Linked DNA regions of Homo sapiens. The protein of the gene in region 1 interacts with the protein of each later gene in a biochemical or structural test. Each region holds a gene or a part of one and is shown in the gene's direction. Other genes may lie near its edges.

Region 1 (4,008 bases):
AGCCAGATGCAGGGACAGAATCAGGCCCATCCCCTGCCTTCCTGGGTTGCATTTGGGAAGGACCAGGGACTGAGCACCCAGCATTTGCAAAGCCAGAGGATGCTGGTTCTGGTGCGTGGTACTGGGGGCTGGGCCTGCGCAGCCTGAGTGGGCGGCAGCACGTGATCACCTGCAGCTGCAGAGCCGTGGTGAGCCAGGCAGCATCACCGGCTCAGCTGACCCTTCCTGGTACACAGGGCCTGGCCATCTTGTGCCCAACCCTGGTAAAGCACCATTTTGTTTCTGCCTCACCATTTGCTTCTCCTGTGTTTTGTGAGCTGTCTGAGATGTGCATCATTCTTCTGTATTTGGAGGGGGACATGGAGCCCAGTTAGGATACCTAGTGCCTAGGAAAAAGCCTACTCAATTTCCCTTGAAAATGTCTCCCTTGACCCCCACCGAATGCTTTTTTTCAGTCCTGATTGTCCTGACTGTGAGCATTCCATCCTGGCTTCTACACTGGGGTGCATTCCAGCCCTGTCGGTCATTATATTGCAAAGTGATGGATAGATGTACGCCCTTGTGAGAGCTTTAATTTAAATATTATCATGACTTCAAGAATCATACAGAACATTCAGGAAATGTTAACATATTGACTTTTCACAGAAACGTGAAAGGGGCTATATGTTTGGGATTACTCAAATTATCAGCAATTTCAATCAGCTTTTTTATGCGCCATTCAGAGAGCAAAATTAGAAGTGCTTGTGTTTGCATTCTACCATGTATTCAAGATAATTAAAAATTAGCCCGTGAAATCATAGAGATCTTTACAGTAGCAGCAAGGATTTGGAAGGAGCATTTCCCTCTAAGCAAATGAACTGGACTTTTCTGAGAGTAAATACGGAATCGGAATCCAGCTGCACATTTTATTAAAACTACGAGCATTTCATGTTCACCTCTCCGTGGCTGGCCACCTTCCGCAATAGTCACCCCGGCCATCCCTTATTAGCAACCGGCAGGAAAATAACTAAAAATAAGCAGCTGTTGAAATGATTATTTAAGCCTCTAAGAAATTCCTCCTGATGACTGTGCGTGACTGTGCGGTGGCTGCGCTCTCCCCGGTCCTGCCTCAGTTCGGCTGCACGTCTCTGCTGCTGCTTTAAGACTGCAGAGCGCCCCAGCGGCCAGAGGCAGGGGAGGGGTCCCTGCTCGCCTCCGCGCTCGGCTTCACTCGCCCGGCTCGCAGGCAGGGAAGGTTGGCAGAGGGATCCATGTGACTGAGGCCGGAGCACGGCAAAGATGAGCCTGCCCGCCCGCCTGCTGCCTGGATGCGGAGGGTGAGGGCTGGCGCACGGGAGGCCGCTGGCTGCGCATTCTGGGCGCCGAGTGCCCGGGATGAGCTCACGCCCGCGTCTGCGGCTCTCTCCACCTGCCGACCTGCCGGGGGCCCACTGAGCTGACGGCGCACCTGGGCTCCGGCCGCAGCGTGGGGCGCGGCGCCCGGGAGCAGGTGTGCAGGAGCGCAGCGCGCGGCGAGCGCAGCCCTCGCTCCGGAGCCCGGCCGCGCCGCGTGCCCGGGCGGCTAGGCAGCGGCGGCGGCGGCGGCGGGCGGCGGGCGGGCGGCGGCCCCCGGGCAGGTGCCGAGCGGCGAGCGGAGCCGGGCCGGGCGGAGCGCGGGGGGCGAGGCCGGCGCGTCGCTCGCGGGAGGCCGGGGAGCGGCAGGGGCATGTGGATACTGGCTCTCTCCTTGTTCCAGAGCTTCGCGAATGGTGAGCCTTTCGGTTTGTGATGAATTTCGTTTCCTTATCATTGACCGGGGGGGCGGGGGGGTGGGGGGTGGCATTGGATGCATGGGTAAAGTCTTCTTTCTTTTTCCGCTTCATCTGTGTTTAAAATTTCGTGCTTTTATTTATTTTTTAAATATCATATTTATTTTTTGGGGGAGAAGAGGTGGCAATGGAGAGGCCCGGGAGAAATTGCTCTGTAATCATTGGAAGGCGCTTACCTAGCCAAGTGACAGCTCAGAGCCTAACTCCAGTACTAGAGAGCTGCCTCATTCAGAATAAACCAGGTTTGGTGACAGAAGGAGAGACAGGAAGATTGCCACTTTGAATATTACAACCTGGAAAGGGATGTGACATTCCAAGTGCACGCAAGTGGAGGGGTCAATGAGGAACATCTCCCTTCAGATTCAATGCTTTTTGAGATTTTTCAAACACGTAATTTCATGCTAGTACAATGTATCTCCAGCACCAAGGAGGGCTTTAAGAATGTTCTGTCCTTCTATGCACCCCGTGCTGCTTCATGCTCCTCACAGTCGTTTATGTAAAAATATGCACTGATAAGCATTACATCATCTGAAATGTTGACAAATTAAAAAAAAAAAAACACCTGTATAGTTGTAAAAATGAAATCAGTGAATATTGTAAATAGCATACATTTCCTCATGCCCAGCCAATATTATATTTTGAAATGATTTCTTCCTGGGTATTTAGAAAGCTATTGCTCTTGACTGAGTCAGACCCAATTAGTAAGTGTGACTGCACCTTAGGCTGCCTGTCACCGCATAAATATGAACTTACATGTATGAATGGCTTCCTCTCTTGTGGGAACCAGAGGAAATTGTCATCATTTGACATCGCCTGGGAGTAGCTACGGCTTAAATTCCCATTTCAAATTTTGGAACACACATCTGCATAAAATGTATAACCTACTGACAGTTGAAATTAAACCATTAAGCAGAATCCCCTAGCCAGAAGAGAGGAGAGAGAGAGAGAGAAAGAGAGGAGGGAGAGAGAGCGAGACAGACACAGAGACAGAGAGAGAGAGAGAGAGAGAGAGAGAGAGGAGAAGAAGAGAAGGTAAAAGAAGAGAAGAGAGGAAATCTGGCCCTTGTGAGAAAATACGAGAAGCAAAGGGGAGGCTCTAAGATTTTCCTGGAAGACACACAGGGAAGCTCTGTGTGTTGGCTGCAAGGCAGTGCATTTTCTTTGCCTACCTAGACAGTGCCTAAAGAATCAGCATACCAACAGGCCAGAAGAAATGCATGAGCATTGTCAATTTTTTAAAAAAACGGTGACTAAGAAAAGGTAGAGTTGAAAGAAGGTACTATCAAAATGAACATGAAAATGATACTTTGCTCTCCAGTATAACCTAAAGCAAAGTGTTTGAAACTTTCATTTTGAGATTTCCTAGCAGGAAAGAATTGCAACAAGTTCTGACAAGACACCCATCTTTCCCAGAGGGCACCATACCTGTCCTGTGTCCTCCTGGGAATTTCCCTTCAGGGACAGATGTGCTTAGGGAACATGCGGAGATGTGTCGGGGAAGTCAGCCCTTTCTGCTCTTCTGCTAATGCGACCTCCTAAGAAATGTAGAGATGCCTACACATGTGTTCCAAAGACACAGAGCCTTGACACCCTGTTTCGCCTGTCAGGGAGTACCTTTCTGAACTCCTTGGAAAGGCCTGGGTTATAAGAAGAAACAAAATTTGCACCCCATTGGGAAGTGTGTGTTTCAGGATGATGAAAGAGGCTGTGCTGGTTGTCAGTCAGCCAGTATTTATTTACAGTTTTAGCATTTTGTATGACAAAATGGTATGGAAGAATTTATGATACTGATACAGACTATTAGCCTCTGATACAGAGATGCTATATGTGTGTGTGACTTTTTTTCTGAATCAGCATTTTATAACTAAAATAAACAATCATAGAAATAATTATATATGGTAATACAATTATATGAAACCTCAAATATTCTGCAATATGAAAAATATATGCAAAAATTATGTAGGTACTCATATAGTGAGTTCTGCAAGTATTATTTTCAAGACTTTTAAAATCAACTGATAATCACCATTATTGTAATAAATATAGGTAGATTCCACAATATTAGACATAAACAGCAAACACAAATGAATATTTTACATTGCTGTATTACGTATTCTGATCCAATCTAGCAGAAGGCTATGGAACTGTCTTGTATAAAAATGCCCCTCTCTTTATATGATCAAGGATGAAAACATTAAAA
Region 2 (3,500 bases), on another chromosome or scaffold:
CATATGCATTTTGTCCAGATGTACCCGAGTCAAGGCCAGACTCTTCCCCCACCTCTGACCTCCCAAATCCCCAGGTGCCTCACTCCACTGGGACTTGAGGGCTCTTAATTCTAGGGACCCACAGTGGCCCTTACGCCTCTGCCTCTGGCCCCTGTGTCTGATGGGCACTGTCAGTGGACGAAATCCAAGGAGCAAAAGAAAGAAAACTCGAACTATGGTGGGTTGGGGAGGGAGGGGGAAGGGACCGTCTTGCAGTCAGCCACAGGAAGTTTGCATCTTTCGAAAACTGCACGTGAGAGGAGTCCGCTGCCAAGGCTTCTTGTCCTCATGTTCCTTTCTTTTCTCACGCAGACGCTAAACATGGTGACACCAACGCTGCGAGTAGAGGACTGCAGCATCGCACTGTTGCCCCGGAACCATGAGAAAAACCGGTGCATGGACATCCTGCCCCCAGACCGCTGCCTGCCCTTCCTCATCACCATCGATGGGGAGAGCAGCAACTACATCAATGCTGCCCTCATGGACGTGAGTGCCCCGCTTCCCGCACGGGTCCGAGGCTGGGGTGTTTGGGGAGACTGCAGAACAGGCTTGGGTCTTCCCCATTCTGCTCACCAGCCCTTTTGTTTTTTAAGACACAAACTTTTTTTTCCAACAAAAAATAGATTTCAGATTCCACGTATGTTTTTGTGTCGGGGCTGATATCCTTCGTTTCTCAAAGACCACCAGGCCAGGAGTATCCGTAAATGCAGCATGGCACAGTTGCCCTCTGAGAGCTGAGACTTTTAACCTGCTGGCTGGGGAACAGGGGACACCATGGCAGGAAAATGGGTTAATAGATTTGCAGCATTATTTTAGTTCATTTTCCTGTAATTTAGCCTGCAGTTAACATAGGGGAAAGTTCAACTCATTACTTCCTGCCAGTCTGTTTTCTTATTGCTATTCCGTTGATGCAAAGAGTGAATGGGTATGTTCTGTGCTAACACGGAAATTTTAATTCTGTTGGTGTCATATCATAAAAGGTACCTGAACTTTTTTGAAGCTCTTCAGAGCTGTAAAAAAAAAGTACATGTATTCTTTACGGCAGAAATAAGAACACTGTCACACATACAAATTGCTAGCAAACAAGTTTTAGAAAAAGCAGAACTTTTAATTATGTGTAATTTTAAAAGTAAAGTTAAATTTTCTCCATCAAGATAATTATGTATAGATTCGATATTGCCTCTCTACCAGAAATATTTTAAAAATTGATAAGAGATACTAATTAAGTTTTCTTGGTATCAAAGTAAGACTTTTATCACTATTATTCTGCAGAGAAGTTTATATTTAGTCTATGTTGGTGCTGACAATGGTGACAGAATTCAACAGCTGTTAAACATGTTCAGTGTTTTGTGCCACAAGCTTCCTTCTGCATGAAATAACCTAGCTTCTTCTCTTCCCATTTTCCTGAGTATATTTGGAGCATTCTTGTTTGTGTTTGCAGAGCTATAAACAGCCTTCAGCTTTTATAGTCACCCAGCATCCTTTGCCAAACACAGTGAAAGACTTTTGGAGACTGGTCCTGGATTATCACTGCACATCCGTAGTTATGCTAAATGATGTGGATCCTGCCCAGGTGAGACCCGGACTTCTTACAGTCAGAACTAGTGCCAGGGGGTCAAGTTTGTTTTTACACTGAGTTTGTTTGCACCCGAGAAGTGCAGGCCCTAGTGCCAGATCTCAAGTGCCAGTTGAAGTTGAGAACTGGGGATGCTGAACACAACGGTTAAAAATCAGGCGGAATTAGGGGTTAGAAAGTCAGTTGAAACCAGAAATACAGGCTGAAATCATAGATGGTTGAGGTGACAGGGCAAGACACGGCCAGAAGTTGAGCTGTTCCTAAAAGATGGAAATACTCACTGGAGGTTGACAAGGTCGCAGACCGAGTTGGAGCTCAGCAGGAACCTGAACATCGCAGAGCCAAAGCAGAATGAGCAAACCAGAGGACAGTGGAGAAGGGAAGATAGCGTTTGACCCAGCCCAGATCCCATTCCTGGAGTGACTGTGTGCTTCCTGGCACAGCTCACCGGGAGCCTACAGGTAGAGATCGTCATGCAGGGCAGGTAGAGATTGTCATGCAGGGTGACAGTGTCGGGGTGACAGCAGAGACAGGCAAGCAATTTTAAGGCACAGCAATTAGTTTTCTCAATGCTTTAGTAAAGATATTAAAAAGAAATAATACTGGGACTTGGAGATAAGAGAAGTTTGGAATGATAAATGGGGCTTTTGCATAGTTACTCTTAAACATTAAAGAGAAAGAATTGGACAGTGATGACTCAATGTTAGTAATGGAGTTAGACACATTTTCTTGAAGCAGGTTGTCAGGCAAGCATTAGCACAGTGGTCCTTTAGGAGATGAATTTATTGCTTTGGGATGTGCCTATACCAATCATAGACAACCACCATGACAGTAGGCATTATGGGAAGTTTGACCTTAGCGTGTTTTAAGAAAAAACTTGTTCTGGAAATGAATTAATTTCCTGTCCAGTAGACACAAATTCTTTTTCTTAAAAAAAAAAAAAAAAAAAGTCTGAAGCATTTCGGCATCCCAACTGGACATGATGGCAAGATTTTTCCTTCCTACAATCTGTTTTCTTGCCATCATCCAGCCATAAATGGCATGGACATTCAATTCAGTTCTATAAGGTTTTTAATTATGTCTGAGGCACTGCATTATATTGTCAAAGCTCTTGCCTGAAAGCTGGTTAATGAAATAGTAATGATAATCTTTGTTCTTATCCAGTCCTTTTGGCTTAAGAAGCTTAAATATTTTAAAACTCTTCCCCACTGATGCTCTGAGAAGGTTAGCTTACAGTCATTTATAAAGACAAGCAGACACCACGGCTTGTGAAGCTTCAAAGACCCAACTCAAAATAGAACCAAGGGTCCTGATTTTCTCACTTACAGTGGCACGGCCGAAATTTCACTAATTCTAGAGTCTTAAGTTGCAGACACTTATAGAATAAGGGACTTCTTCCTTATTTAGAATCATGATGGTTTTTTTCTTAATGTGAATCCTGAAATGTGGAGATATTTTTGTTCATATTAGTGAACAAGACATCAGTGATTCTAGTGCATTCTTTTTGAAAAACTGCATTGGAATTCTAAAGCCGCATTCTAAACCCGAACTATCTGGACTCAAACCAAGCCTTGGCTGGCTCATGGGTAGGAGAGACAAAAAGACTCCAGTTCTATTCAGCAGACAGAGCTGATTTTCAGAGTGAGAGAAAAGAGGCTCCTGGGATTCAGTCTTTTAGCGAACACTAAACTGAGCATTTGAATGTAAAGGCTTTGCAATTCTACAAGAATAGCACTCAACTATTTTAAGTATTTATAGGTCCGGTTCACGGACGTGTTATGCACCATTTAAGCCATTTTCTACATGGTTTACTTGGGCAGAGCATAGAATGCAATGTGCCAAGAGGCAAGTGCAACCCACGTCACTCATATTTCTTTGGTGTAAG

What was found. Proteins that work in one complex are often made in the same cells at the same time.
Region 2: the proteins of DSCAM (region 1) and PTPRM interact in a biophysical measurement, tested with the Homo sapiens proteins (one large-scale study listed by IntAct).

Annotation. Positions count from the first base shown.
Region 1 is NC_000021.9:40,844,359-40,848,366, reverse strand, and holds the start of DSCAM (cell adhesion molecule DSCAM isoform CHD2-42 precursor), read left to right. Parts: upstream 1-1,208; 5' UTR 1,209-1,705; coding exon 1,706-1,748; intron 1,749-4,008. UniProt on the Homo sapiens protein: Cell adhesion molecule that plays a role in neuronal self-avoidance. Promotes repulsion between specific neuronal processes of either the same cell or the same subtype of cells.
Region 2 is NC_000018.10:8,378,816-8,382,315, forward strand, and holds part of PTPRM (receptor-type tyrosine-protein phosphatase mu isoform 1 precursor), read left to right. Parts: intron 1-351; coding exon 352-525; intron 526-1,480; coding exon 1,481-1,612; intron 1,613-3,500. UniProt on the Homo sapiens protein: Receptor protein-tyrosine phosphatase that mediates homotypic cell-cell interactions and plays a role in adipogenic differentiation via modulation of p120 catenin/CTNND1 phosphorylation.